Linked DNA regions of Homo sapiens. The protein of the gene in region 1 purifies or fractionates together with the protein of each later gene. This does not show direct contact. Each region holds a gene or a part of one and is shown in the gene's direction. Other genes may lie near its edges.

Region 1 (4,977 bases):
TCACAATTGTATTTCCAATGCTGGATTCATAGGCACTTCCTTGTCATAGTAGCAGCACATTAATTTTAGCCTAAATAATTATTTAAATTATTTAACTATTTAAATTATTTAACTATTTAAATAATTATTTTACTAAGAAGAATCCACGAAATGAAAATGAGCACGTTCACTAATTTTCATATTGCCTGACCATCTCATAGCACCATGGTCACAGACTGCAAAGCCTCTCACCGGAACAAGACAGACCAGCAAGGAAGTGTAGGTTCAACAGCACATGAGAATCATAACTTTTAGTGCCAGAGTGTCTGAACCAGAGAGGAGGGAAAATGAGAGGCCAAGAGTTGTCTCCATTTTCTTCTCTTCACAGTATCCTGCATAGTGGCACAAATCGAACTGGAAAGCCCAAGCTAACAACACCGCCCTGGGCGAACCGCCTGTCTCCACCGGCTCCTCTGGGCAGGAGGCTCCAGCCTGGGGGTGCCTGACAGCTCTCCTTCCCCGGCGCCTGTATTATACATGTAACATTTATATTTCTATCCACACAGCGTTCATTCAGCCATCCATTCAATCACCCAGGCATATTTACACGGATGGAACACATTCGCGGAGAGATGTGTGTGTTTGAGTTCCAATCACTGCAGCCCGTATTGGCGCGGCGCTTTGTCTCGCTTTGGGTCACCACCACAGGAGCAACGATTTCGGGGACGGCACACGCCTGTGTGACCGCTTCCCACTCCACTTGGGTTCCGTGAGCGCGCGGAGCCGGAGGAGTCAGGGACGTGAGGATGCCCTACTTCCCGCAGCATCCGGATGGCAGGGTCTGCGTCGGAAGGCCCGGGAGGGCGACGCCCTCCACTGCTGCCGCGGGGTGGGTGCGCCAGGCCTGGGTGTGGCCTCACGGGAGCGAGTTTCTCTCCAGCCGCCTGGCCCACCGCTTTGGAACAGTGAAGCTCGAGTTGGGGTCTCCTGCACGCCAAGGGGAGAAATGTTTGTTTCTGACAACACAAGCAAAATTCTCTCTCCTGCACGCCAAGGGGAGAAATGTTTGTTTCTAACAACACAAGCAAAATTCTCTCTCTCTCTCCCTCTCTCTCTCTCTTCTCTCCTCTCTCTTTCTCCCTCCTCCTCCTTTCTTTCTTTCTCTTTTTCTTTCTTTCTTTCTTTCTTCCTCCTCCTCCTCTCTCTCTCTCTATCTCTCTCTCCACCCCCCCCCCCTCATATTTGGTTGTTTCCCCTCTAAGGGGCCACTTTCAATATCTGCCTGTGAGCCCAGCTGTCTGGCCCTATGTAGCATTGGGGAGACAGTAGACTTAACCCAGCGAAGTTTTCTTCTGTTTGCTCTTGCTGTGCCCAAGTTTCCTCTGGACTTGTCTTCCAGCGTCGGGGTGGGGGCTGGGGGAAGTAGGCAACCTAGCTCTGCCTGGTTGCTCCCTGGAAGCCAAGTCGAAGTGAACAAGTCAGTCCCAGGCCCGGAAATAGAATACAAACCCTCTTTTTGTCCGGTGCTAACAGAGTCCAGCAGTCAGAACTCCCTCGCGTCTCACGCTGGACCTGACCCGGGGCGCCGCCAAGTGCGCAACGCACAGTCACAGTTGGTGACTAATTAAGGACTGCCGCCCCTCTCCTTCACCTGCTACAAACTCAGAGCCCTGACTTCTCCAGAAGTACCTACCACTTGGAGGTGGCTCTCCTTCCCCGCCCCCTGCCCCAGTCCCACACCGCAGCAGCGCCTCAGCACCGCGACTTGCCGGAGCACCGCGAGTGGCGCGCGGGTCCCGCCTCCCCCGCGCGCCGTGACTCCCTGCGCACCGCTGGTACTCTCGCCACGCCGCCGCCCGGCACTGCAGCACCAGGGGGAGGAGGCAGGCGGAGGAGAGGAGGAGGACCGCAGCGTGCAAGCCGGGAGCCACTTTCCCGCCCCTCCTCTCGCCGCTGACACGCTCAGAGGAGTCACCACTCCGCGCGCTGCAGGCGAGAGTGGCAGACGGAGGCAGCCCGGGGAAGCGAGCCGGAGCGGCGCCCGCACTGAGGCGGCTGCAGTGCTGACACCACTCAGGGCAAGGGTGTCCGACGGCTGGAGCGGTGAGTGGGGGAGGTGAAGCGGGCATCCGCGGGGAGACTTTCCCCCGCTGCTGGATTTCTCTTCCCGACTGGTGGCCGGGCGCTGCAGCCTGGGGAAGTTTTTGCAGCCTTTCGGAAGCGCAACTTTGCCCCGCCTGCCCCCGGGGAAGCGGCTGCAGGTGCCCGCTGCTTTGTAGGCGCCTTTGTTGGAGAGGGACCAGGAAAGTAGGGGTAAAATAGATGCAGTGACCCCAGGGTTCGCTAGGGTAGGTCTGGGGACTGGGTCGCACTTTATCTGGGATTCCCAGAGGAGGTGGGTGGGCAGCAGCGGGGATGCAGGGGCCGCATCTGCAGCGACCGCCACGCTCTTTTTTGCTTGTGTGGTTTGACCGGCAGGGATAGGCAGATTCAAATCTAGCAGCCTAGAGCCCCGGGCTGGGTACCTGGACCTATACCTTCATAGCTGCCTTAGGCTCAACTTTTCGGCGGGGATCCCTCTGCAGACGTGCAGGTGGCGGGAGAGCAGAGGTAGCCGCAGTAAGTGCTGAGAGAGCCTGAAAGAAACACCATGAATTTTCAAACTCTCCCACATACATTCCCGAAGCGCCTGTCTGGCGTCTAAGAGAGAGCAAGAGAGGGCTGGAGAGCAGGGGAGCCCGCGGGGCTGAGGCTCTTTGTCAGCGCCTGCACTTCCTACGTTACAACGCCTTCATTCAGCAAAAACCTTTTGGGCGCCTGCTGTGCGCCAGGCCAGGCGAAGCAGACCCGAGGCTGTGAAGCTCAGAGGGGAGAGGGACCAATCGCAGTAAATAAGCTACCGAGGTAATCTTAGATGGCGATGAGGGCAGCAAAAGCCATCAGCCGACCCTCTGACCCTTTCTCTTAGTGGGCTTTTCCCCTTCCGCCTGGGTTCTAGAACTGGGAAGACTTTTCTCCAGAGCGTCGCGGGGAGCGCCCCGGGCTGGGCCCACGGGGACTGCGGAATACGGGGATGAACTTGGCTTGGGGCAGCCAGCACCCCACGGCAGATGAACAATCGGGAGCAGATCTGTGGGCGTGCGGGGACCTTAGGCGGCGCGCGGGGGCGGGGGGAGGGGCTGAGCCACGGGGGCTAGAGGTGCCGCCTGGACGGCCTGAGCTGGGGGCGCTCGCGTCACCTTCTACGTGTGCGAGTGATGCAAATGCAGACCCGCGAGGGGCGGGCGGGGGTGGCGGGCGGGGGCAGGCGACGGAGTCTCCGTCTGGGAGCGCGCGTGTGTGCGTCAAAAGCTCTGGGTTGATGGATGCCCCGCGGCGCGCCTGGCGCGGAGAGCGGCGACCCGGCGGGGCAGAGGGGGGCGGGAGGACTGCGGCGGCGCGGGGCGGCGAGGAAAGCCCCGCACGGCCTGGGCTGGCGGGCAGGCGGCTCCGCAGTGCGCCGCAGTGCCGGGAAGGAGCCGCAGCTACCGGGCGCTCCCCGGGGGACCGAGGAGATGAGGCGTCTTTTAAGGCTCATGAGAGCCTTAAGGAGATGAGACCGGGATGCCGTGATGGTCTCCTCTCCCGCTGAACCTAATCCCTTCATACTTAGCTGACTGCTAGCGCGGTAGCTTCCGTTTAATTCTTATCCTTAATTCTGAAGAATGTGGCATTAATCTCTCAGGCGTTCACTCATTTTCCATGGCAAGTTCCGAAAGGCCTCGTGCTCGTGGGAAGTTTTCATGTGAACGCCTAGGTGTTGAGGTTCGTGAGGTTCTGTAGTGCCAACCCGTTGCGCCACCATTCTGCAGGATTTTTGGCAGGAGGCCTGGCCTCTAAGTGAGGTTTAAGAATGTCTTACAAAACAATATGCCGCATTCCTCTTTCATGGCATAAAAATACGCGTTAAAAAACACTACTGATAACGCATTCTCTGGTGGAAAATAATAAATCAAATCCACGATCCATTTTATTCTTTTTTTTAAAGACCACTTTCTGGAAACCCAGTGACAAAGTTTTTCTACTGGCTTTACTGAAGGAGCCCAAATCTGCAGTATGTAGGCAAAATGAATGAAAGGGGACGGGGTTGGGAAAAAAGAAAGAAAGGAAGGGAGGGAGGAAGAAAAGCAATTATCAAGGAACCCAGAGACACAGATGCTAGTCACCATTTCCCCAAATATTGTGTTATGTCACCTTGGGCAGGTTACTCACCCTCTTGGGTTCATCTTCCACCTCTGAGAATTGTGAAAAATAGCTTATACTAGCTCTTATGTACCTTACAGGGTTGTTTTGAAGACAAAAGAGATAATCTCAGAGAGCTTTGGCTTTGGAAATACAAATTTTCCATGAATGGAAAATATTAGCAAACAAAGCCCCTACACACACACACACACACACACACACACACACAGAATTTTCTTTTAAAAAATTCTAGAGACTTTTCCCAGCATTGTTTTTTTAATGAAATTTGGCCCTCAATGTGAGCAAATGCAGACAGCAGACTTTTCCTAACAGTCTAATATGTAATCCAATGCCATTAGCTACTGACTGTCTGGAGAAGGAAAAAAAGAAGCTCTGGATCACATCTGAGTGTTTTGTTCATGTAGTGGAGAAATCAGCTTTATTTTTCATGACCCAATGACAGTGAAAGTAGCTTCTCTGATCTGAGCAGCAGACTGGCCTAACAGCTTGTAGTAAAACTCCTATTCATTATTAACCCTATCATATTCCTTAAGTGTGGAAATGCTTCAAATAATAGGATCCAGTTCCCAGTCTCCAGGAGATTACGGCAAAGGCATCATAATGTGCAATATATCACGTGACGACAAGTACCAGAAAACCCATTTCCTATAATTAGGAGTGTTATCTCTTATTCTTAAGCAAACTTGATGACATATTGTATGAATAAAAGCATGTGATTTGTCAAAATGGCTCCTTAACCAGCCCACTGTTGTTATT
Region 2 (4,823 bases), on another chromosome or scaffold:
AATAAATAGTAAAGAGTGATTTTGAGATACATATTGCAAAAATGTCCACTAATAACTTATCCTTGTATTTATCTGTATATTTTCAAAGGTAAGTAATGTGATGTCAAGGCCGACACAATCACATTAAACTGTGTCCTGCTTCCCCAACTGTAACTCTAATACTATTGCCCTCAGAGATTGCAGAGACCACAGAACCGAACTCCTTCCCACAAACCCCCGGATTTTTCTGTGGCAAAATCCCTTGTAGGAAATGAATTCTCTCTATATCTCAAAACAGCCTCACTTACCCAGTAGGCCCTGTAAGCACAGTGTCTCAGGTCCACAATACTTTTAGATGCCCAGGAAAATGTTTCCTTTTAAAATAAGAACAAAAAAGAAAAAAATTAGGTGTTGGTTAAAGAAAATGTTTAAATATATAATATTAAGATATTTATCTTTATGTCAGTGTTGGTATAAATGCGTGTTTATGAAAAAGGGACCCACCAAGGTGAAATGCCGTAGGACCCACAAATGTCATAATGCTGGCTGGCCTCAAAATGTCCTTCCTATTAAACTATTTTGAATGATTCCTAGGTATGCCAGATGCCAATTTTTCTTGGCCAGCCAGGGAACGTCTCATGTCTTTGGAAGAAATTATCTTTCTCTTACTGGATTCTTCTGAGAAAAGTGATTTGTTAAAAGTTTTGGTTATTTCAAATCAATATGTACTCAACTAGGACGTCTCCTCACCCACGTTAATTTTTTAAAGAGGAGGAAAGTAGGAGAAGATGAGCGCTTCATGTAAGGCTCTGCCAGCCTACGAGGAAATGCAATCCTCCAGGCTCGCCCGAGCGTGGGCTGCGGGCAGGGGACTGTGGGGCCGTTGTCTCGTTTTATTCCACGGCCGTGCAGCAGAGGGCGCGTGCCTCTCAGCACTCATGCTGCGCGCTCCCCTGCGCCTCTAGGATCGTATCCCTATTTGCCCCAAGGTCATAGCTCCTAACCCAGCTTGCCAGCCCCAGGCCGGGGACACCAGAGACTGAGCCCTTCGCGCTGGAGACCCCGGCGCGGGTGGGGCGGGAGGGCTCCGGGGCCAAGAGACAGGTCACAATGGGGACAGGGGACGAAAGGCGCCGGGGGTCCGGGTCCCGAGCAGTCCCCGCCGCCGCCAGACTCCGCAGCCGGGAGGGGGATGGGGTGCGCGTAGAGGCTCCGCGGCCCGGGTTGGACGGAGGAGCCCAGGAGCCACCGCAGCCGCCGCACGCCCAGAGCTCCGAGCTTCGCTGCCAGCCCAGGACACCGGGGCCCTGCCGTGGGCCGAGGGGAGCCGGGCGGCGGGAGAGGAGCCCCGGAGCCCCGGAGCCCCGGAGCCCCGCCGGGCGCCAGCCGAGAGGGCGTTTTCCCCGCCCCCGGAGACTCGCCCGCCCGGCCCGCCCCGCCCCGAGCGCGGGGAGTTCACCTCCGCCCGTCACCACCTCCCCTTGTCGCCTAGGTCCACCCGAGCCCCCTCCCCCGGGCCGCCCCCGAGCACGAAGTTGGCGGGAGCCTATAAAAGCTGGTGCCGGCGCGACCCGCGGACACACAGTGCAGGCGCCCAAGCCGCCGCCGCCAGATCGGTGCCGATTCCTGCCCTGCCCCGACCGCCAGCGCGACCATGTCCCATCACTGGGGGTACGGCAAACACAACGGTGAGTGCCGGCGACGGCCAGCGCGGGGGCGCCCCGATCCCCGATCCCCGATCCCCGATCCCCGAGCCCGGATGCCGGCCCGGGGCCCGCAGCGCCCGCACATGCTGTTTACCGCGGCCGCGGGGAGTGCTGGAGGCTCAGGTGCGCCCCGGGCGCTCGCTCCGCTCGCGGCTCCGCGGCGCCGGGGATGTCCCCCTTGCCCCAGCTGCGAGGCCACTGTGGAGGAATCCCCGCGTCCGCCGGAGGCGCGTAGGGCCCGAGGGAGGGGAGGCGCAGCCCTGGCCGCGGGACCCGAGGACAGTCCCTCCCGGGTCCCGACCTGGGGATCATTTTAACCGGACCTAGGAGGAGGCGGGAAAGGGTTGTAACGGAAAATTCTAGTTGTTGATCGCAGAGAAATTAAGAGACTCCCCTCCCCCCTCCCCCACCTTCCACCCCCACCCCACCCCTCCAGCTTCAGCACCACCTGTGGCTAAGGCGCTCAGCACGAACTGTCCCGGGGCATTTTCCAGTGCTGGTTTGAATCCATGGCTCTGATTTCCGAGTTTTCCCTTCATCTCTCGACTTCTAATGTTAGGGGGTCGGACATCAGGAATCGGGTTTTATCTTGGCCTCAGATCTGGTTCTTCGGAGCCAGCGGAGCAGAGGAGCATGCGTCTGGCGCACCTAGCGCATCTTTGGAGGGTGTGGGGCTTCCCAGGTAGTGGGGAACCCTGACGGTTAAAGGTGGGGTGGGCCCGGGCCTGGGCAGTGAGGAAAGGATCCAGACCTCCTTGAATGTCTTAAGTGAGCTTGCATATCCCAAAATCGCAACCACAAGCCCTGACATTAGTGTCTGCCCGATTTCAGTTGCTGAATTTCAGTAAAACGACCTTAAAATAGCTAATATTTATATAGCACTCAGTGATCTAAGAGCTTTACATATATCGATTCTAATTCTTACAGCGACATCTATGAGGTAGATTTCTAATTATCCCATATTACAAATGTGGAAACTGAGGCACAGATTACGTGTTTTCCCAAAATTTAGCCCATTGTTAAGTGATGCTTCTAAAATTGGAACTGAGCAGATTGGCTCCGGAATGATTGCTCTTCTCTAGGGGTCTGGGTGTACCTTTCCCCACAATGGGGGATTCACATGTCTTCTTTCCCCCAGGACCTGAGCACTGGCATAAGGACTTCCCCATTGCCAAGGGAGAGCGCCAGTCCCCTGTTGACATCGACACTCATACAGCCAAGTATGACCCTTCCCTGAAGCCCCTGTCTGTTTCCTATGATCAAGCAACTTCCCTGAGGATCCTCAACAATGGTCATGCTTTCAACGTGGAGTTTGATGACTCTCAGGACAAAGCAGGTCAGTGTTTAGAAAATAACTTGTGTCTTTTAGCCAGTAGCTGTTTTCCGAGCTTAATGGAAGGAGCCAGGAACAGTGGCAGGAACCCTCTTAATAATACAGTTTGTCTCAGGACTCAAGGATGCCACCCTGATCATTTTCATTAGGTCTCAGATTCTGAGAAGTAGGCTAATTAGTTTGAAGTGTCCCGGGGCCGTTTCTTCCCTGTAAAACCCTTGGCTTCTATGAAGGCCATTGAATAACTGCGATATGCCTGTGAAAAATCACAAAAGGTGCAAAGTCCCCTCGCAATAAAGATCAGTCACGATGAGATTTGCACCAATTGAACTTTTAAGATTGTAAAATATTTTGTCTTGCAGAGCTGATGCATATCCATTAAAAAGTATATCTTAGTGAGCCTTATCTTCAAGTTAGCAGCGAGAAGAGTAACAAAAACGTGCCAATTTAAAATACTGAAATTCTGGGAAAATGTTTTACTTATGAGTATTTCTTAGTATTGGGCTAGTGTGATAAAGATGGCAGCATGTTTTGATATCTACTCAGAAATTCATTTCACAAACGAAGATGTTTTAGAGTTGGTGAACATACCTGGCCCATTACTGACAAAACCAATTACCGTATTTATTGGTAATAGAGCTGTTTACAGGATGCTCACTGTAAAAAAAAAAAAAAAAAGAAAGAGAAAGAAGAAAAAAAATCCTGCTTTTTTTTTTTTATCTCTCTCTCTTTTGAAACAAGAGAACAATCCCATTCACACATAGTAGCTGCCTTCTTTGCTAAGCAGTTAATTTAATTGCCAGTGCCCTATTTTCCTGAGTGCTTTCCTCTGAAGGTCATAGAATGAAATGGTGCTGCAAACACATTTTGTTTGGTGGTGGTGTGGGAGTGAGGGGAGTGGTGGAACAAAATGAGAAAGTTTTGGAGTAGTGACCTACGGTACTAATATATTATATAATATGTAATTATAACCATTTAGTCAGGTAGACTATTCTTTGTCAGCAGCTATCCTATATAGTCAACTTGGTTTTGAAAAAAGAATTCTTCCCTCCTTTCAACTTTAAAAAAATTTGCAAACACCTGGCTTTCTGAAATGGTGATTCTGGAAGACAATTTGATGGGGGATAATGTGGAGATCATCTGAGAAATGTTTTCAACCTACCTGTGCCTGTCTGTGTGCACCCCTCCCCAGTACACACATACATACATACATACACACACACACACACACACACACACTTACAATCATACTCACACTTTCTGGCATAGTATGATGATTTATTAGAATCAAGTAAAGGTTGTACATTGAAAACAGTTCGGTGATTCTGCTACATTGCTTTCCCAAGCATTCCTCTCACTCCAAAGGAACAGTGCTCATATAATTAAATTAAACAATTTTTTTCTTGTAAAGAATACTGTATATTTATAACAAGACAAGGCCAAAGGTCTCAAGGTATTACACATACAGAAAGAATACTATAACATTTCACGTCTAGTCATTTACAAACCAAAAGAAGTGAGCTACTTTAGTCTGTAGCTGTACTTTTTTAAAGAGCCACAATGATGTCATTGTTTTCAATGGATGTAATGTCTGCCAAATTATGTATCTCATTGGATGCTACATAGAAATTGGATAGTTTAAGTCTTTTTTGGAGCACTGAAGAAACAAATCTCCAACAAATGAAAGCAGATGAGGTTCCTAATAGTCCTTAAAAAATGGATAGTGAAATAAATTATTCTAGTAATATGTATTACTGGAAAGTGGATTTGAACACATGGTCTGGTGGCTATCAGCATAGACTGGG
Region 3 (4,243 bases), on another chromosome or scaffold:
ATGTTTTGATTATATTTATTTAGTAATCTAGGTGAGGTGAGGGTGTGGTGAAATGGGCATGCTGATATGGAGTATGAACCTAGATTTTAAAAAATGTATGTCTACAGAAAATTTCTCTGCATTTCTCTCACTCCTAACATACACACACTCATGTTATATTCTGTTAATAGTGATTGGTTTTTGTGGTGGAATTATGATGACTTTGCAAAATTTTCTTCACTTTCTACATTTTCTAAAATGGATATGTATTACTCCTTAAAGATGACATGTAGGTTTTATCTTATATACCAGCTCTGATCCATTGTGAGTAGCTGCTAAGAGGCAATGTTGTAAAGGTTCTGAGACAAACTGGGTTAGCAGGAAAGAGTATAATTGAATCTAATTGTCATGATAGGTGGCTTGGAGAGGTGAAATCCACAAGTCAAGATCTTCTTATTTTAGAAAATGAAGTTGGACAATAATTCATTTAAATGGTGTAATGTAGCTTTTATCAGAAAATGAAGAGTACTCAGTTGACAATTTCAACATCTATTCTCTAAAAACAAAGTAATATACATGAGTAAAAAATAGAAATACTATAGAACTTTAAAGATTACCACTATAATTTTTACTGACTTACATATTTGAAAAATATTTAGGTAGGTTGGTGTGTGTTTAATCTGTTATCAGGTTGTCTTTTGCAATTACTTTGGTTGTTTAAAGGTTGTGTCATAGTTGTCATTCCTCAGAGTGCCTAAATCTTCATTTGAAAAGTTTTCTTTCATTTAACATTTATGTTTATAGTAGTTGAATTTTTTTAAAACAATAACTTTGATTTTAGTTACACGATGTATTTTATTTCAAAATGGACTTTTAATGCATGACTACTCCCTATTATTAAAACAAGCAAAAATTTCATTGATGAGAAACACTGAAATTGTTTTTTAAGATGTTTTGTGATTGGCCAGGATATATAGATGCATTTAAATTGCTAAAATTAAACTCTTATGAGAAACTCATTCTTGCCTTTATGTTTGTTTTAAACTGTTTCTCGCCTTTTTTTTTTTCAGCCTTCAAAACCTCTTACATTCCAGTAGAAAACTCTCTCTGCAAGTCCTTAACTTTGTTCACTCATTCCAGGTAACAAAAACCAAAAAGTCCAAATGGTACTTGTACTGAGCTTTAAGTATGCACAACACTTCTGTGTTTGTTTTTGAGTCACCACAGCAGCAAGATATGAAATAAACATTAATTTTATTGTACAAATGAAGACATTGAGATTCAAGAAGTTAATGGACTTGCACATTTCACTCGCCAGGTCTTCGGAGACCAAAGCTTGATCTCTTTGTTCTGTGCCAGTGCTTTATTCAACAGAAATGTGTTAAGTGTCTTTTATGGGCTGTGTGCCATGCTAGGTGTTAGTTTTTGGTTATAGCGCACTTCCCAATAACTAAAGCGATTCTCCACTGCTGGGATGGGCTGTCTGTTGTGGCAGCGAAGGCCAGTGCTCTGGACTTCTTGTTTTTCCCCCATCCCCAAGGAAAGAAAGAATATTCTAGACTTGATTTATAGGTAAACTTTTAAAATAGAATATTTCTGTTCAGAATATCTAATTCAACGTTATGAAATCAATATTTTGGAGTTTTACTTCATTCATTCAGTTGGTAAATGCTTGACCCTGACCTATGCCAGATTCTTTGCTGAGTGCTGTGGAAACAGTGATGTGTAAGATACTAATGGAACTTAGAGAATGTTGTGGGAGACAATAATCAGATAAATATTAAGATATATAAGTTCTAAAAGATTTTAAAAAGTACTTTGAAGAAGCCAACTATGATGAAATCTGCAGGTAGACCTAATTTCAATAGGTGCAGGATAATATAAGCTGAAGCCAAAAAGTTGGAAAAGAATATTCCGGCAGAGCTTAGGTCTGTACTTCCTGTGTCTGGGAAATGTCCAGTGAACAAAGAAACAAATGAAGCCCAGTGTGGCAGAAACTTCATGAAAGAGGGGTAGAAGCAAGAGGTAAGGTTGAAGAAGAGGGCCGGAGCACGGTGTGCAGGGCCTTCTGGCATATGTTAGAGAACTAGTATTTTACGTTGAGTGCAAAGAGAAATGATTAAAGACTTTTAAACAGGGGAGAGAGGTTATTTCTGAAGGACTATTTTATAAAAATAGGCAAAAATGGAAATTTTATAAGGATGCAATAAATGGAAAAATTTCAAAATTCTGTCAATACTGGCCTGTCTGTTGTGGCAGTGAAGGCCTTGGCCATAGTGAATTAATAAATTAAACTAATTTGGGATATATTTTGGAGATAGGTTGATAAAACTTGATGATGAATTAAATGTGAGGAAAAGATTAGGGCTGTGGAGGGAAGGGAGGGGAGGGATCATGAATGATTCTTATGTTTTTTGATTAGCTGGATGTGTGAAATAGAGAAGACTGGGGAGGAAGAGGGGAGGGAAAATTTGAGAGTTCAATGATGGGCATACTGAGTATAGAGTGCATGGGGAAGCATCTGAAATGAAGTGTCAGATAGGTGGATGTTTGAGCATGGAGTCCTGGGGGGAGGTCTGTGCGGAATATATGAATCTGAGAAGCGTGGAGTAGGTGGATTATTCTGGTGCTTAGTGTTTTGTAAGGTTTTTTTTGTTTGTTTGTTTTGTTTTTTCCCCGAGATGGAGTCTGGCTGTGTTGCCCAGGCTGGAGTGCAGTGGCACGATCTCGGCTCACTGCAACCTTTGCCTCCTGGGTTCAAGCCATTCTCCTGCCTCAGCCTCTTGAGTAACTGGTATCACAGGCATGTGCCACCACACCCAGCTAATTTTTTTGTATTTTTAGTAGGAAGAGGTTTCACCATGTTGGCCAGGCTCGTTTTGAACTCCTGATCTCAAGTGATTCACCCGCCTCAGCCTCCCAGAGTGCTGGGATTACAGGCGCACAAGCCACTGCACCTGGCCTTTGTAAGTTTTTTTTTTTTTTTAGAGATTTTTCTTCTGTTAGGTAATACTTTGGGGTTAGGTTAGGTCTTGTAAAAATGAACTTTTGCTTTTCCCACAGTCTCGTAGCCTCTTATTTCTATTTAAAAGGACTTACTACAGTTTAACGTTGTTAGTCATTTTTGCACATATTAATACCTGTCATTGATTGCTTTGGGCTCACAGTGTAGATCTTTGCATCTCCTGTACTGCTTTGCAATCCATAAACACTTCTCAGGTAATCAAGGTCTCTCTTTCTCATTAGTTATATTAAGTGGTTTTGGTAAAGTGTTGAATATCATTTCTCTTGTTTCTTGATCTTTTAGGAAGGTGCTTCAATATTGGATATTCACACAGAGCCCAGTTTTTCAAGTTTGCTTTCACAGTCATCGTGTGCTGACATGGGTGTTCCACTTCCTGCAAAAAACTTAATATTTAAAGATGGTGTCTTATCAGAATGGAGTGGACGGTCACCTTCCTCACTTCTTATTGCTAATCTCCATTTGCAATAATTTGGTTACACCATTTGTTGCTCACACTTTCTGCCTTTTTTCTTTCTTAACGTTAGCTTTATAGTGTCAGCCACTAAAAAGCATCCTGCTGCTGCAGTGCAATTCTTGCTTAACTAATATTAAAAGTTGGGGAACATATTCATGTTTTCTGAAGTTTTGCTCATTATTGCACATCTTATTGCGACAAAGTGCTTTTTAGCAGCCAGCACTGTATTTTTTACCTTGAGACAATCTGCATTTCTTTTATAAAACTAAGTATATACTTTATAGGCTTTATGATGACTGTTATGTTTATAAGCAGTCACTATGAAAATTGCAATGGTAATTTTATATGTTAGTTTATCAAACATAAATCTTGTTTAATTTTATATTTTGTTACCTATACTTTGGGGGATCAAGGGAAGAGATGGAACTCTTCCTCTGAAAAGGCTTCTTGGTACTTAAAGTAGTAAAACTATAAAACAATAAACATCCAGTATTGAGAGATGATATGATAGGGCATTATGAATTCCTATGGGTGTCTGTAAATTATGTATGTCAGTTGGACATTGTAGAAGGTATGTAAATCAGCATAGTTGTGTATAACTTAACCTTGATTTATAAGGTCTTAAGATTATGACTATTCATTGACATCTCATGAGAAGCTTTAGAAGACTTTCTATTTTTAAACACCATTTATATGTGGACTTCTGTTGTCACTGACTTTGGGCTTTATATTTTCATAGAGTCTTTATGGAAAAAATAGAATTTATTTTCCACTCTTGTAGCTAT
Region 4 (4,243 bases), on another chromosome or scaffold:
ATATTGATAGTTTGGCCAATCTGAAAATTGGCAGATGGGGTTTGAATGTAGTGAGAAGGTTGGTTCCAATGTTAATATTCAGAGTTATTGAATGTTTTTCTAATTATAAAAGTAATACATGTTCCTTGCAAAACATTTGGAAAACATAGCTTCCTTTACCTTTTAAAAAAATTCTGGCTGGATTAAAAAATTAAATGTAAAACCCTAAAATCACTGAACTACTAGAAGTAAATGTATGTGATTTTAAAAATGAACTTTGCAGGGCAAGGTCTTTATATACCAAGGGCAAACTGGATTAGTAAAATCGGTTATTCCTCGAGTTTCATTGGTGGAGTTGTGAGTGCATTTAGGAAGAAATAGAGTAGCTACATATTTAAATGGAATATAAACTGTTGCCACTATTTATTCAGCAAACAATAGTTGACATATGCTTGGGATACAAAGTCAAATGAGACAGGTTTCCTGCCCTCAAGAAGTATTCAGATGCTGGGAGGGAAGTGTAAGTAAATCAGCAGTTTGGCAAGTGCTGTGAGAGAAAGATAGAAAGATTAAGAAGGGAGCAGAGAGGAGGGGCATCTAAATCTAATGAGGGTCAGAAAATCTTCCCAGCAGAGGAGACACACTAAATTTTGAAACATTTAAAGGCTGTGTGAAGTCACAGTGGTGTGACATGGCCCTTAATTATGATTAATGCAGTAAAATGGCAGGAAGTGAAGCCAGTGGGTTAGGTAAGGGCAGGTTATGGCGGGTTTTGATGTGCAATTTGACTTTTATCCTTAAAGCAATGGGGAGTTATTGAGTCTTGAGCAGAGGCATGAAATGAGCAGATTTGCATTTTAGAAAAATTGTTTTTTTCTAAACAGAAAAACAGATAGGATGTAGGTAGCTCAAGGCAAGGACATTAGATAGAAGGTTGTTAAAGTAGTCAGGTGGGAAGTGACGTATAGACTAAGGAGGTAACAGTATTGACAATAGAAGATGGATTAAAGAACTCTTAAGTTAGAACCTCAAAAGTCAGAAGAATGTAGGATTATCAGATTTCTGGTATGAGGGACTAGAGTTTGGTAACTGGAGTTTTCCACTGATGTTGGTAATACTAGAGTAAATCAAGTTTGTGAAGAGAGATGAAATTTTCAGTTTAATCTATGTAGAGTTTAACATACCTGTGGTACAGACAAGCAAAGATACAATTGTGATTTAGGTCGGAATTCAGCAGAGAGGTCTGGACTAAAGAAACAGATTCAAATGTCATAAGTGTGTGAGCGGTGTTGAAACCATGGGTTGGGTGAAATTACCATTGAGTACAGATGGCCAGGAATATCCCTAAGGGACATAAACATTTAAAGAACCACCAAAAATGACTGAGAAGTGCTAAGAGAAAATGCAGGAGAGAATACTAACATAGAAGCCAATAGAAGAGAGAATTTCAAGAAAAAAGTAAGAGTTTCGAGAAGCAAAAGCAAAGACTTTAAATATACAGACAAGAGAGTATCCATCGAATTTGGCAGCCTCCAAAAGCTGGGCAGCCTCCAAAGTGTGGTGGCTGAAGCCAGACTGAAGAAAGTCAAGAAATAAAAGTGATGTAAAGAAGTGGAGACAGCAAGGACACGCTACTCCTTCAAGAAACCTGACTTTGAAGAGAAGGAGATAGGGAAGGCAAAAGCTGAGAGAAACATGGGGTCAATATGGAATTTTTAAAAGTGGAGAATATCCATGTGTTTCTAGACTGAAGAAAAAGAAAAGAATGTGAGGAGGTGAGAAGGGAGACAGAAAGCATGACTGAATTGGCAAAATCCAAGAGCGGGTAGAAGGGCGTGGGATCCAGAGTACTGGATTGTCCCTGGACAGGACAAGGGGCACCTTTTTTCATTGATACAGAAGAGGAGTAAAGGGTAGGTCCAGATGAAAATGAGATTAGAGAAAGTTAAGGTATTCTCACTGATGTCCCTGATATTCTCACTGAAGTGTAGGAAGCAAAGTGATCCTGTCAGAAAGGTGGTGAGTAGTGGTATGGGGTATCCTGAAGAAAGATGAATGTAGGAGGAGGCTTAGGATTATCAAGTAGCACTGAAGACCTGAGGCTAACAATTTGTAGACATGAATGCTCCTTTGGGTGACTGCTTTTCCCTGTATTAATACTCAGCAGGAGTATCATTTTCTTCTCTAGTAATACTGAGCCATGATGTAAGAGTACAGGAACTTAATGACAAGGCTGATCCAGAACTGGGGCTTTTTAGGACATATTGTAGAAGAATAAAGACACAGGAAAGCCAAGAGTAAGTGGAAAAAGAAAGCACTTGAAAGTAATTGACTATCAGTTTGGCACTGAGGGGAAAATGAGTGGTCAGGGAGTAGAATCCTCAATGTGATTGAAAACTTGGTGCAGTTAGGTCTTCAGGGGCCCACAATAAAACCCCTCTCTTCCTCTTTTTAGTTTGAACCAAGGTATGAAAACAAATGCAGGAACTAGGCAGATGAAGATCAAAACGTCATCTTTATAAATGTCAGCAGGAGTGGAGGACAGAGCACAGATACGTGGTCTCTATCTGATCTCCTAATACTGTGAACAAAGGTGTCCATTGAAACAGCTCCTTCAGGGCAGAGACCACCACAAGAAGCTAATTTTCACCACATGAAAATTAGAAGCAGTGACCGTTTGAGACAAGGACAGCTGCTGTCAGAGAGAAAGGAAAGGGCTGGATCCATGCATTGGTCCTTCTAGACTTGGGGAGGAGTGAGTAAGCAGTGGAGTGAGAGAAGCCAGTGTTGCTACTGCTTTGTAATTCACCACCTGGAAACTTGAGAACAGGGAAGCATTTCACCCTAAGAGACACAATGGGCACAAAAGAATCAACCAGAAGAATATGGGATGTGATTAGAGAGCAGGATCTCAGGGTTTTAGATTTCCAAAGTGGAATAGTTCTGGGTGACATTAGGGGCCAGGATGTGGCCATGGAAATGGGTGGATGTGGTGAATCAGAGGTGATGTCAAGGGCTGAGAGGCTGGGGTATGGTTTTATTCATTCATGCGGTCAGGATGTGATCCAGGGTGACACTGGACTTGGGATGCCAGGACATAGAAGACAAAAAAAATTAGAGTGTGAGGGTGATGGGCTTTGAAGCAGAAGTGAGAAGCCTTGGGCTGGATTGTGAGCCTGGGCTAAACCATTCTGGCCTGTGTGTGGAATAAGATTCCAGAAGTGAGGTAGGTACTTGATGCAACTGGATTTCCTCAGTTTCATTTTGCATCACCATCTGTAAGCCAAAGATAAATTTATTACGGATGACCCTATGTTCATTCACCCTCTTTTTGGACAAATGTAAATGGTGGTGGTTAGCCAATTTTAGGGGGAGCAATGGAGGCAGTACTTGCTGAATTCATGGTTTTTAAGATGTAGCTTTAAGAGGAAAAGAAAGCTTGAGGATTCCATGCTCCAAACTAGCATTCCATCCAGTGAGAGGAGATTATTAGTTCACTTTCTAGCAGGTATAGGTAGACAAATAAATAACTTTTGCAGAGAGAAACTCCCAGAGTGGAATTGTACATGCATAACAAAATTTTTCTCTCTCCACATTAAAAGGAGTGGCCTCAGACTCATCAAGCCTCTATCTCATACACGGGACCTACAGAGAGACCTCCCAATGAACCAGAGGAGACCCCTGTACAAAGGCCTTCTTTGTACAGGAGAATATTACGAAGGCTTGCGTCCTACTGGGCACAACCACAGGATGGTGAGCAATGTGGCGACTAAAGATTGGAGGGCCCTGGTCAGTTTAGAAGTGCCCTAAAGTAGACCTCCAAAATCAGTTTTAGAGACTTAACTAGAGCAGGAGAAGCCTCTCAGGGATCACTGAATTCATCCTTCTGTGTGCCACCAGAGCAGGCCCAAGCAATGTGCCATCAATGGGCATAGCAGTCTCTGTGCACAGTCTTTCTGTTAACGTGACTGCTTTTGGTAGTGATGTTTTAGGCACAGAGATGCCATTTTTACCTCTATGTATAAGAAGCATGAAATAAATAAAATGAAGGCAGAGTCAGCAGAAAGGTTGAGAAGCTGAGCTGAGCAGCTAGCAGCTAGCCGTCCGTGGTGGGTGGTGAAATGTTAATGGAAGAAACTGACCTGTATCTAATGGATTCCCACAGCCCTTTCCCAAGAGGTGAGCCCGGAGGTCTGGAAAGATGTGCAGCTGTCCACCATTGAACTGTCCATCACAACACGGAATAATCAGCTTGACCCGACAG
Region 5 (4,243 bases), on another chromosome or scaffold:
GGCAAAATAATAGGGGGAATAAGTGTATACAACTCTCCCTTGAGAGTGACTGTACATTAAAAATACAGTTAATTTCTAAAAATATTTTTTAACTTTAGGATTATGGATAACATATACTAAGATTCTCATGGAAGTTAGGAATATTTTAAATACATCCAGATATTTAATAATGTTCAGATGCTTTTAATTACAGAACCTCATAGAAATTCTTTCTCAGGGAGATTCTTCAAGCAATCACTATGTCAACAGACACAGGTGTTTCCCTTCCTTCATATGAGGAAGATCAGGGATCAAAACTCATTCGAAAAGCTAAAGAGGCACCATTCGTACCCGTTGGTAAGTTTGACTGACATTTTAGTAGTCTTGAATATGGTAGAGCCGTGATAATTTGTTCATTTAGCAATATCCTGAAAGAATGTATTTTCCATTTTTTTCTTATGTTGAAATATGCTGAGATTGGCATGATATAAATCTCATCATAAAGATTCTTCTGTATGTATTCAGACTTTTTTTTTCTTTTTGGAGACAGGGTCTCTTTCACCTAGACTGAAGTGCAGTGGCTTGATCATAGCTCACTGCCCCCATCCCTCGACCTCTCAGGTTCTTGATCCTCCCACCTCAGCCTCCTAAGTAGCTGGGACCACAGGTGTGCACCACCACGCCCAGCGAATTTTTGTAGTTTTGTATAGACACGGGGTTTTGCGATACTGCCTAGGCTAGTCTTGAACTCCTGGGCTCAAGCAATCCGCCTGCCCTCAGCCTAGTGCTAGGATTATAGGCGTGAGCTGCCACTCCAGCTGAGACTTCTTATTTTATTGAGTCTTATTTCAGTGCATAATGTTGTATTGGGGGACCCCAAGACCATCCTCAGGTTAGATGATTGGGCCAAGACTCATAAGACTCAAAAATGCTTGTTACAGTCATAGTTTATTACAGCAATGGGATATAGGTTAAAGTCAACAAAGACATATAGAATGAAGTGTAGGATAAACCAGACACAAAATTCTAGGTGTCCCCTTCCCAGGGAGTCCCACAGGGGGAGAGGGGGTGCATTTAATTCTTCAGTACTGATGTGATATGTGGCAATACATGCTAAGTCTTGCCATCTAGGGAAGCCCACCAAGCCTTGGTAACCAGGTTTTATTGAGGTGTCAGCTGTGACTGAAATTAGCTATTCAGTCTCCTATCCCCCAGAGGTCGGACTCGCAGGCATATTAAAATTCATTTAATATGCAGTTAAAACAGATGAAAGGTGAAATTTATAGTATATAAATTAATCTTAAGAAAAAGTTTAAAAATTTTTAATCTTACAGAGAATTTTAAAATTACCTTTAATGCCACCATTTAGATATAACTGTTGTTACCATTTTGATGTACATATTTCTCCAGTTGTTTTTTCTTTTTTTATCTTCACAAATTCAGGATCATACTAAGATGCATATATGTATTATAATTTTTATCTCATGTTTTTAACTATGTTATTCGAAACTCGACTTTTTTTTTTTTTTCCGAGAAGGAGTTTCACTCTTGTTGCCCAGGCTGGAGTGCAGTGGCGCGATATCGGCTCACTGCAACCTCCACCTCTTGGGTTCAAGCGATTCTTCTGCCTCAGCCTCCTGAGTAGCTAGAATTATAGGTGCCCGCCGCCACGCCAGCTAATTTCTTTGTATTTTTAGTAGAGATGGGGGTTTCATCATGTTGGCCAGGCTGGTCTCGAACTCCTGATCTCAGGTGATCCACCTGCCTCGGCCTCCCAAAGTGCTGGGATTACAGGTGTGAGCCACCGTGCCTGGCCTAAAACTCTACTTTTTTTTTTTTTGAAACGGAGTCTTGCTCTGTCGCCCAGGCTGGAGTGCAGTGGCAGGATCTTGGCTCACTGCAAGCTCCGCCTCCCGAGTTCACGCCATTCTCCTGCCTCAGCCTCCCGAGTAGCTGGGACTACAGGTGCTCGCCACCACGCCTGGCTAATTTTTTCTATCTTTTAGTAGAGACAGGGTTTCACCGTGTTAGCCAGGATGATCTCGATCTCCTGATCTTGTGATCCGCCCGCCTCGGCCTCCCAAAGTGCTGGAATTATAGGCGTGAGCCACCGCGCCCGGCCAAAACTCCACTTTTAAGAATGACTTAATTTATATGATATAAATTACTGTTGTATATAACATTATTATAATCCTCTTGGTAGAAATTTATGTGATTTCTAATTTTTCATTATTAACAATTAAACTACTGAGCATCCTTTTAGATGGCTCTCCAAGAAGTTAAAGGACTTTGAAGTCTCTTGAAGGAATTTTTCTTCTGACCATATAATTAATAAGTTAGTTGCAAAAGTACATAAAACAGAAAGGTACCATGTCCTATGATCCCGACTCTGAAAGACAACAGCAGTCTGCACAGTCTGTCAGTGTTTTCTTCTCTGTGTACTACCATAAACTATTATTTATAATTATTTTTAGATGAAATATTTTTCTTTAGCCTTGTTCATTATCTTTTTATAACAATGCATATAGGAACATTTATATTTTTAATAATTGAATCATTAATTTTGTAGATATACAATGTTTTGTAACAGTGATCTATAAAATTTTTTGGTTGTATATTCCCTCAGTAAAAAATAATTTGAGCACGTACTTCCTGCCAGTGTGTTGTGTGTTTACCTATTTTTAAGTCATTTATGACTTTTAAGTCATTTAAGTCATTATGAAATACGCAGAAAGACATTTCAAAAGGATAAGATACAAATATAAAATTTTCTGCTCTTTAATGGGTTGTCATTTATACATATCCCTTCTTGGGAGTACATAAACCCTACATTGATTTAACCATTGCTGTATTGACGACATAGGAGTTGTTCCCATTATGTTGATTTTACAAACTGTTGGAAGACTGTGTGTGTAAAAATTAAATATCCTTATATACTTAATTGTACCAAAACAATGATTTACACCAATAGGCTGTGATGGGCTGGTTTTCCCATACTCTCAGTAGCACTAGATATTATCATTCTTTGAGCATCTTTTCATATGTATTGGTCATTCAGGCTTCTCTTCTGTGAATTAGCTTTTTTGTTTTTGCTTTTGTTTCTGTTTTAACTAGGATGTCTTTTTCTAATTAAATTATAATTATGTATTTTAGGTATTAATGTTTTCTTAATATGTTGCAAGGCCTTCATGATCCTGGGATTACTTAGGTTCCTGTATTTCCTTATGTTGTGCATTTATCATTGAGATACTAATCTATCTGGAATTTATTTGTAGGTATGACATGAGGCAAAATCTAACTTATTTTCCGTATGGATACTTTAATTTTCTATCACAGTGATTTGGGTATCTGTTTTGCATTCTTTTTCCACTTATTTGAAATGTGAACTATGTCATATACTAAACATATGAGAGATTTGTTACTCAACTACTGTATGTATTTTGTTGCTTTGATCTGTCTGCCAGAAACTTAGTGGTATGTTTAGATACCTCATAAGCCAGTACACTTTCACTATTCTACCTTCTTAAAAAGAGCTTGCCTGTTTACTTTGAAATTAGCTTGTTAATTGCAGCTACTCAGCAGGCCAAGGCAGGAGCGTCACTTGAGCCCAGGAGTTCAGGGCTGTAGTGTATAATGATCATGCCTGCGAATACCCACTGAACTCTAGTCTGGGAAACATAGGAAGACGCCGTGTCTGAAAAAAAGAGAGAAAAGAAAAAGAAACTGGCTTGCCCAGTCCAAAACGGGAAAAATGTCTCATTTTTACATTTGGATTACATTGAATTTATAAATTTGGAGAGAATGGAAATTTTAGAATGTGGTGCATCTACTGATTTTCATTCAAACCTTTTGTGTCCTTAAATATGATTTTATTGTTTTCTCTAGGTCTAGAAATTTAATTTCTCTAGATATGCTTTTTAATGTATTCATCAAAGTAATCTTTTTTCTTATTGGTTCTAGTTGTTTTTCTTTCTTTCTTTCGAGACGGAGTCTTGCTCTGTCGCTCAGGCTGGAGTGCAGTGGCACAATCTCAGCTTACTGCAACCTCCGCCTCCCGGGTTCAAGCAATTCTTGTGCCTCAGCCTCCCGAGTAGCTGGTATTACAGGCGCCTGCCACCATACCTGGCTAATTTTTGTAGTTTTAGTAGAGACAGGGTTTTGCCATGTTGGCCAGGTTGGTCTCGAATTCCTGACCTCAAATGATCCACCTGCCTCAGCCTCCCAAAGTACTGGGATTACAGGCGTGAGCCACTGCACCTGGCCT
Region 6 (4,243 bases), on another chromosome or scaffold:
ACAAATGATCTATTGCCTATCACTTGAAACAATCTATAGTAGTATTCCTTTTAATTTTTGGTGATTTCATGAAAAAGATTTAACTGTATTTCTGTAGACGGTGAGAAACCAAAAGATATATTCAGACAAAGAACTAATATGACAAGATATGTTTTTAAGAAGATATCACTGCTAACAGTATGGAAATTGAATGAGTGTAAGAGGAGACTGGAGACCAAGACATTTACCCTCTTTTTTTTTTTTAACTTCTTTGAGGTTTGGACAAAGAAACCTGTTTGATCCCAGCTGTGCAGGAGCCGAAGTTTCCACAGAACTACAACCTTGTAACAGAGAACCTTGCTCTGACAGAGTACACCTTGTACTTGGGATTTCACAGGTAACTCCTCTGATGTCATTAGGAAAAAACAGTTTAGTTGTGTTGATAACTAGAAGGTAGAAATTGAGTCTTTGGCCAGGCACAGTAGCTCACATCTTTAATCTCAGGATTTTGGGAGGCCAAGGCAGAAGGATTGCTTGAGGCCAGAAGTTTAAGACCACCAACCTGGGCAAGAAAGTGAGACCCCCATCTCTACCAAAAAAAAAAAATTAGCCAGGCATGGTGGCATATGCTTGTGGTCTTAGCTGCTTCAGAGGCTGAGGCAGGAGGATTGCTCTAGCCGAAGAGTTGGAGGCCACAGTGAGCTATGATTGTGCAACTGTACTCCATCCTGGGTGACAGAGTGATAACCTGTTTCTTAAAAAAAAAAGAGAGGAAGAGTCTTACAGATATAATCTGAGCTTATTCTAAAGGTTCACATTAGAATCTAATAGAAAAGGGGCATTGTATGAATTTACTTGTGTTTCATGAATCAGCTTTGTCCAGATTCCTTAAATTTGTTTTTAACTTTTATCGTTGTCGTTGTTGTTGAAATGGATTTTCGCTCTTGTCACCTTGGCTGGAGTACAGTGGCACATTCTCTGCTCACTGCAACCTCCGCCTCCTGGGTTCAAGCAATTCTTCTGCCTCATCCTCCCAAGTAGCTGGGATTACAGGCATGCACCACCATGCCCAGCTGATTTTGTATTTTTTTAGTAGAGATGGGGTTTCGCTGTGTTGGCCAGGCTGGTCTCGAACTCCTGACCTCAGGTGATCCACCACCTTGGCCTCCCAAAGTGCTGGGATTACAGGCATGAGCCACTGTGCCTGGCCTGTTTTTTAACTTTTGACCTGTTAAACTTTAAAAATTAAATCACTGTCTTCCTATTGTGATCTGGGAAAGTGGAATTGTTTTCATTTTATATTGCACTTTCTGCTCTTAAATTTTCATTACTGGCCGGGTGTGGTGGCTCATGCCTGTAATCCTTTGCACTTTGGGAGGCCGAGGCAGGCAGATCACTTGAGCCCAGGAGTTTGAGACCAGCCTGGGCAACATGGCAAAACCCCGTCTCTACAAAATATACAAAAATTAGCTGGGCATGGTGGCGTGTGCCTGTAGTGTCAGCTACTCACGAGGCTGAGGTGGGAGGATCTCTTGAGCCTGGGATGTTGAGACTGCAGTGAGCCGAGATTGCGCCACTGCACTCCAGCCTGGGCAACATAGTGAAACCCTGTCTCAAAAAAAAAAAAAAAAATTTCATTACTACTCCTGGTGATAAAAGATGAAGTTCAGCCGGGCGCAGTGGCTCATGCCTATAATCCCAGCACTTTGGGAGGCTGAGGCAGGCAGATCACAAGGTCAGGAGATCAAGACCGTCCTAGCTAACATGGTGAAACCCCGTCTCTACTAAAAATACAAAAAATTAGCCCAGCTTGGTGGTACGCGCCTGTAGTCCCAGCTACTCGGGAGGTTGAAGAAGGAGAATCGCTTGAACCTGGGAGGCGGAGGTTGCAGTGAGCCGAGATGGTGTCACTGCACTCCAGCCTAGGCGACAGGGCGAGAATCTGTCTCAAAAAAAAAAATTAATTAAAAAAAAGAAAAAGACCAAGTTCTACTCTACAGATAGAGACAAAAGTGGCAAATATTAAGGAAATGTTTATAAGGGAGCTAATGAGATCAATAGGACCACAAAAGACATTAGATAAAGAAGATTCTAGAAATGTTAAGATTTTAGAACTAGAATGTATGACTTCCAAAAACAGTTCTGGTTCTGGCTATTCATTATTCTGTAATTTGTTTTCCTCTGATTTAGCTGATTATGACAGGTATAAGTAGAGGAAGAAAACAGCAACTCAGTCATAGAAAGGGACACTAAGAATAGCAATTTTTAATGCCTTCTCAAGATACCTGAATTGATGCAGAGCATTTTTCAAAACTACTCAGTCAACACATTGCCGGAAGAAGGAAATTATGTCTTTAGAGAGAAATCTCCATCATAGACATTTTAAATAAGACAGTAGATAAAAGTTCAGCATGTGCTTAAGCTGCTCAGCTGCCTAGATTCAAACAAAAAATGAATATCATCTAGTTTCCCAATATTAGCTAGCTCAAGACATTATCTACAGGGCCAAAGGAAATGATTTTGGACTATTATCCATAACTTTGAATTATGTGTCTTCCTTTCAGTAGAGAATATTAGGCTGACCTTTTCTGAAGAATAATTTAATTTAATATTGAACAACAGAGAGCTGGAAGCTGCTCTTAGATTGCATCTCAGGTGGCTACTAGTTTATATGTGGTCATTACTAATCTAGAGTCCCTTTTCACCAGCTTAGTTTTCTACTAACCAAAGAAAGACTATCCATATAACCCCATCAAAGTATGATCATTGCATCAAAGTATGATCATTGCCCTTGTGTGATGTAAAACTATCCTGCTGGCCTTCTTGTACTTTGCCTAATAATTATTTTATGTAATAACAACCCATTCTACACCCTACTCAACCAAGCTGCCTTTCTTTGGATAGTGCATTTCAACTGAAGGCTGCTATTTGCAATTAGCTTCAATTATGTTGAATACTTGGCAGCATTTTCCCATTGCTGTGCACCCTGCCTGTGTCCTGTCAAAAACTTTTGTGAGTGCCTTCTGTGTCATTGCAACTGCAACTCCCTACTATCCTTAAAGAGAAGGCTAGATAAATAATTGAGGATTTGTTTTTTTGTGACTTTCTGTTTTCCCTGACCCAGTCTCTTCTGCTTTCTTGGGGGCAGGTTGCATGATCAGATGGTAAAAATCAACCAAAATCTGCATCGGCTGCAGGTTGCCTGGCGGGATGCTCAGCAAAGTTCTAGCCCTGCTGCTGACAATCTTCGTGAGCAGTTTGAACGACTGATGACCATCTATCTTTCTACCAAGACTGCCATGACAGAGCCACAAATGCTACAAAACTGCCTAAACTTGCAGGTGTCCATGGCTGTTCTACTGGTTCAACTGGCCATAGGCAATGAGGGCTCACAGCCAATAGAGCTAACCTTTCCTTTGCCAGATGGCTACAGCTCTTTGGCTTATGTGCCAGGTAAGCAGGCTCTCCCTTGGGAATGTCCTGTTTATAGCCTTCTGAGTTTAAGTGGGTCACTTTGGAAGTTTAATCCTCAAAATACCCTTTCTTCGTTATCATTCAGTTGTTTTTGGAGAAACAACTCAAACTTAGATAATATCTACTGGTCAAAGTATTAGGGGACTAACAGTTTGTTCCCTCAACCTTGTGTCCCCCTGCTATGCATATCAGAAAATCATCTTCAAAGGATTAAGTGTAATCAGAGTTTTCAGAGCTGTTAGTTTCTATCATTAATATTTGTTCAACTTACACATTCATCTAACTTTCCCTGTCCTTTTTGTAGAAAAAAAATTAGCTCCTGCTGGTTAACTCAGAAGGGAAAGAGTGTGTGTGTGTGTGTGCGTGTGTGTGTGTGTGTGTGTGTGTGTGTGTGTGTGTGTGTGTCAGTGAGTCATTGAGGGGTGGGCAGGTGTTGTCAATCTAATCAGGTTATGTGTTCTTAACCATTGTATTGGCCATATCATGCTGAGTAACAGATTACCCCAAAACATAGCAGCTTAAAACTACAGACTGGGTATGATGGTGCACGCCTGTAATCCCAGCACTTTGGGAGGCCGAAACAGGATGATTACTTGAGCCCAGGAGTTCAAGATTGGCCTGGGCAACATAGAGAGACCCTATCTCTACAAAAAATAAAAAATTAGCCAGGCATGGTGGTGCACACTTGTAGTTCCAGCTACTCAGGAGGCTGAAGTGAGAGAATCGCTTGAGCCCAGGAAGTTGAGGCCACAGTGAGCCATAATTGCACTACTGTACTCCAGCCTGGGTG
Region 7 (4,243 bases), on another chromosome or scaffold:
TGCTGCTGTTGGACACTCCGTCACCTTTTGGAACACAAGTATATCAAGATAGTGGCTACTGATGTTCAAGTGGGATTGAAGTGTGATAAATGGATATATTTTGTTGTTTGCTGGGGTGTTCATGGAGATGTTAAGAGATTGAGGCCCTGGGCTGAGGGTATATAATGTATGTCAGGTAAAGTTTGAAGACTGCCAAGGAGCAGATTTTCTCCCTGGAAATGTGAAAACTGAACCTATAACTCTGATAAGGACTTGAGATGTGTAGAAACGTTGGGTTATGGAAGACTAGTTTCTTCCATAACCCTGAATTGGAGACCTTAATGCTAAGTGTAGATTATTGAGGTTTGTTAGTGAGGAAAAGAATAAGAGTTCAGAAGCCTTTGTTATCAGATAGCGAAATCAGGGCCTAGTGAGGAGCACAGGTCGACTACATAATGGAGTCCATTGGCGAACCCTATTGCAATTTGGTCCAACTATATCTTCTGGTGAAGGAAATTAATGATGTAAGAAAATGCAAGAGGCTCAACTTCTCTTCCAAAAATCTTCTGGCTTCTGAACTCTTCCTCTGCCTCTCTTTAAATAAATAACACAGAATTTCAAGTGGTAGGAGACTTATTAAGCCAGTCACCAAGCTTGGTCTGTCAGCCTGTCTTCTAACACCTCAAAGATCTTGTGCCCTGTGCTGTCCCTCCCTTGTAATTATGAAAAGTTCTTTGGTTTCTGGGGTGAATTCTACCCATGTATAATGAGGAATTCTCTCATAACCTTTTTTGTCTTGTCTGTCATCTCTGTTCATCCCTTCCTATAACCTCTAGGTAAAAAGAAAAGAAAAAAAGAAATTTCGAGATATTTTCAACATTGTTAGAGTTTGGGCTAAAATGAGCAAGGAGAAAAAAACCACCAAGAACATTTCCTGGGGCATGTTCCAGTTTTGAGGGGTGATATATCTGCCAGATAGGGGGTATCTGACCCAGTCTTCTTTTCAGCTGGTCTCTGGGGGGAGCTGAGAACTCGCTTGCTACCTCACATCCTTTTCCCCAGACTTTTTATCTCCTATGCATCCCTTTGCTTTCTATAGCTGGTGTTTCTTCCCCAAAATGGCGTTCCCATGCTTACCTTTCTCACATTCTAGACAATGATGGACAAAGACGCATGCAAGACTCAGACCCGGGGAATGGTGTGGTGCTAATCTCAACACCTGACATTCACAGCAAGCATGGCCCAGCCCAACTGCATGTCTATCTCAAACCGCAGAAAGGCTTTAATACTGGAAAAAAAGAATTCAAGACTACAGGCAGCTCCCCTCTGTACCCCAACTCATTTAAAATAGGAGGAATCACTTTTTGCCTTACTTAACGCTTTTTTCTGAGCACAGGGATGGGCACCTGCACCCCAGAAGGTGTGAGCTGTCTCTCTGCCAGGAGCTAAGGTTCATTAGGGGATTGGATGGTTTATCACTTCTTTCTTTCTGAGTTTACTTTTAGTAACTTTTATTGATGGCTACCTTTCATGTCCCTGTCTAAAGAGACTTTCTCTTTCATACGTCTTAAATCTCATCAATGAAATCCAGTGAAACAGCACCATTTCTTAGTATCATTAAATAACTAGAAAGTATCAAGTATTGCTCTCTGCTGCTTTATATCATTAACATATTAATAATACCAAGAAGGAAATACTTTGAATAAGTGTCAGATTCTGATCCAGTATTGGACACCTGTGATATTGGACACCTGTGAGGCTGGGATAATTACTTTTGAATTACACCTCTTCTCTAGTTTCTGGACCTTGCTCTGTCACTTTAACACAGGGTGATCAAACCTGAATGAGGATCAGAACTCACCCAGGCACATACTAAAGCAAGATTCCTAAACCTCAGTTCCAGGGGTAATTCTGACATCACCCGTCCAGCATAGTCAGCTGAAATTATAAATCTAAGAAACAGTTACATCAAGATTCTGCTGTGTCATTTAATTCTGAAACTCCCAGTATTCTACCCTTCTTCATCACTGCATATTACCCCACTCTTCCATCCCAAATTGGCTATCCTTTCAGCCCACCAACTTAGCGGCAGCACTAGGGATTCATTATAAGGTAAATCTGGTTTACATAAAGACCTGAAGGAGGCCTGTATTTGAAGCTCACACTTGGTATTGGTATCTCTCATTTTTACTGAGCCAGTGTGGAATACCACTGTATGTACTCATATAAGCCCTTGACTTTTACTGCTCATCAGGATTGGAATATTACTCTAGCAGTCTTCACACATAGGCAAGTTACAGTCCTTTTAAAAAGTATCTCATTTCCCTATAATGGAACCTAATAGCCAACTTTTTCATAGAAATTGCTAGAAGAGTTTGATCAACTATAAATGATAAAGTGTTTATAAGCATAGTCAGTGTGACACAGAAACCAATCTTAAAATTGAATTTAATGTTTTATCATATCAGATTAAATATTTTCTCCATGTCTTATTTTTACTGCAACAAGTTAGAAAGTGGGAACACTTTGATTAATGTCTTAAAATTTGTGGGCCCTCATTTGGATAAAGGCAGCAATCCTAAGGACTTTTTTTTTTTTTTTAACATAATCTGAGAATTTCTCTGTAGAGCAGAGACTTTCAAACCTTTTGGCTGTAACCCACAGTAAAAAACGCATTTATATCAAACCTTAGAATATGTTTAATGAACAATACTTACCATTCTGATGCTTTTTATTGTTTCAGTTTTTAAAATATGCCAGTTGCAACCCACTAAATTGATATCTACCAATGGGTTGCAACCCTTAGCTTGAAAAAAACACCCTCACAGAGGAACTGGTATTTCTTGAATACCTTCTGTTTGCCAGGCACTTCACCAGGCATTTTACAAGTAAGGAAACTGGGCTTCAGAGAAAATAATTTGCAGAGGTTTACTCAACTACAAAGGGGTGAAGCCAGGAATGTTAACTAGGTCTGTTGAGCTACAAAAACTTTTATGTCTCTCAGACTATACAGCCTCTATACAAAATTGAGATGGGGGTTGGGGGCAGGGGCTCATGCCTGCAATCCCAGCACTTAGGGAGGCAGAGGCCAGAGGATCACTTGAGCCCAGGAGTTTGAGACCAGCCTGGGCAACATAGTGAGACTCTTGTCTGTATGAAAAAAATTAAGAATTAGCTGGGTGTGGCATAGCACACACCTGTGGTCCCAGCTACATGGGAAGCTGAAGTGGGAGGATCACTTGAACTCAGGAGCAGCCTTGGTGACAGAACAAGACCCTCTCTCAAAAAAATATTTAAAAAAAGGTGGGTCATCCATTCTCCTTTACCAAACAGGCTTTGAAATGACACATTCCATTCATTTGCATCTTTTTAAAAAACTTCTGATTCCTTACTGAGTGTCCAGCAGCCTCAAAGTTTTTAATGGTAGCTGATGCAGACATAAACAGTGCTCAATTTGGCCCTTAAACTATAAAATCAAGAAAGAGTATTTCAATCCCATCCACCTGCCTGCAAGATTTCTTAATGTTCACTAGTTATAACCATTGTTTAAACAGTGCTTTTTGTGTAATTTAAAAATAAACTTTAATGCTTTTTAAAACAAATTTATCATAATTCATAGATCAAATGATTATCCTTTAAAATGATACCCTTGGGAAATCATGTACTTACTGTAGTGATGCTAGTATTAATATTACTTAGACCAATTTTGAAACTGTTCTTTCAGAATTGCCTCCAAAGACATTTTGCAGATCATCCCAGAAAAGGGGGTATGATGGTGCTGTGTAGAACTGACCAGAGTTCCTGGAGGATTTTGAGGTTATACTGAAACTGAGTGCTGTACAGGGAGAATTGCATGAGTCCAGAAACTTCCTTCTGTGGGCTGCCTGCCTTCCTGCCCTCCCTTAAGTGCTCTAAGATTTTTGTACAGGAGTAAGAATCAAATACTGGTAACATCAATCACAAGAAGTTGAGGAAACCTGTAATATAGCTAGATAATATACAACGTTTGTCTTCCATCAGAGTGCAGAAACCAAACCATGCTTTGTGTTAACCTTAAATATGAAAGGTGTTTCTCAGGGTCCCCTTTGTCCTTCGTTGCTGCCATATGAAATCTTACAAGGAAGGATGAGGAAAAGCCTGGGGGGAGGTTCTCCTCGGAAATGAGGTGGTTTTTTTTGTTATTAAGTAGAACGTGGCTGTGGTTCACAGGTACTTAACGAATGTTAGATGATGTTCTTAAGTAATCAGAGGCCTAATAAAAGGC

The links.
Region 2: the proteins of SV2C (region 1) and CA2 purify together in Homo sapiens (affinity purification with mass spectrometry; one large-scale study listed by BioGRID and IntAct). This does not show direct contact.
Region 3: the proteins of SV2C (region 1) and FAM91A1 purify together in Homo sapiens (affinity purification with mass spectrometry; one large-scale study listed by BioGRID and IntAct). This does not show direct contact.
Region 4: the proteins of SV2C (region 1) and AGK purify together in Homo sapiens (affinity purification with mass spectrometry; one large-scale study listed by BioGRID and IntAct). This does not show direct contact.
Region 5: the proteins of SV2C (region 1) and HIGD1A purify together in Homo sapiens (affinity purification with mass spectrometry; one large-scale study listed by BioGRID and IntAct). This does not show direct contact.
Region 6: the proteins of SV2C (region 1) and UBE4A purify together in Homo sapiens (affinity purification with mass spectrometry; 2 studies listed by BioGRID and IntAct, with this or other methods). This does not show direct contact.
Region 7: the proteins of SV2C (region 1) and STX17 purify together in Homo sapiens (affinity purification with mass spectrometry; one large-scale study listed by BioGRID and IntAct). This does not show direct contact.

What each region holds. Positions count from the first base shown.
Region 1 is NC_000005.10:76,081,431-76,086,407, forward strand, and holds the start of SV2C (synaptic vesicle glycoprotein 2C), read left to right. Parts: upstream 1-1,952; 5' UTR 1,953-2,082; intron 2,083-2,785; exon of another isoform or gene 2,786-2,883; intron 2,884-4,977. UniProt on the Homo sapiens protein: Plays a role in the control of regulated secretion in neural and endocrine cells, enhancing selectively low-frequency neurotransmission.
Region 2 is NC_000008.11:85,462,449-85,467,271, forward strand, and holds the start of CA2 (carbonic anhydrase 2), read left to right. Parts: upstream 1-1,558; 5' UTR 1,559-1,633; coding exon 1,634-1,667; intron 1,668-1,779; exon of another isoform or gene 1,780-1,885; intron 1,886-2,133; exon of another isoform or gene 2,134-2,467; intron 2,468-2,823; coding exon 2,824-3,021; intron 3,022-4,823. UniProt on the Homo sapiens protein: Catalyzes the reversible hydration of carbon dioxide. Can also hydrate cyanamide to urea. Stimulates the chloride-bicarbonate exchange activity of SLC26A6. Essential for bone resorption and osteoclast differentiation.
Region 3 is NC_000008.11:123,809,233-123,813,475, forward strand, and holds part of FAM91A1 (protein FAM91A1), read left to right. Parts: intron 1-1,049; coding exon 1,050-1,119; coding exon of another isoform or gene 1,120-1,158; exon of another isoform or gene 1,159-1,429; intron 1,430-3,286; coding exon 3,287-3,472; 3' UTR 3,473-4,243. UniProt on the Homo sapiens protein: As component of the WDR11 complex acts together with TBC1D23 to facilitate the golgin-mediated capture of vesicles generated using AP-1.
Region 4 is NC_000007.14:141,637,667-141,641,909, forward strand, and holds part of AGK (acylglycerol kinase, mitochondrial isoform 1 precursor), read left to right. Parts: intron 1-3,581; coding exon 3,582-3,732; intron 3,733-4,144; coding exon 4,145-4,242; intron 4,243-4,243. UniProt on the Homo sapiens protein: Lipid kinase that can phosphorylate both monoacylglycerol and diacylglycerol to form lysophosphatidic acid (LPA) and phosphatidic acid (PA), respectively. Does not phosphorylate sphingosine. Phosphorylates ceramide.
Region 5 is NC_000003.12:42,790,250-42,794,492, reverse strand, and holds part of HIGD1A (HIG1 domain family member 1A, mitochondrial), read left to right. Parts: intron 1-193; exon of another isoform or gene 194-217; coding exon of another isoform or gene 218-239; coding exon 240-336; intron 337-4,243. UniProt on the Homo sapiens protein: Proposed subunit of cytochrome c oxidase (COX, complex IV), which is the terminal component of the mitochondrial respiratory chain that catalyzes the reduction of oxygen to water. May play a role in the assembly of respiratory supercomplexes.
Region 6 is NC_000011.10:118,376,319-118,380,561, forward strand, and holds part of UBE4A (ubiquitin conjugation factor E4 A), read left to right. Parts: intron 1-255; coding exon 256-376; intron 377-3,127; coding exon 3,128-3,432; intron 3,433-4,243.
Region 7 is NC_000009.12:99,968,724-99,972,966, forward strand, and holds part of STX17 (syntaxin-17), read left to right. Parts: 3' UTR 1-4,243. UniProt on the Homo sapiens protein: SNAREs, soluble N-ethylmaleimide-sensitive factor-attachment protein receptors, are essential proteins for fusion of cellular membranes.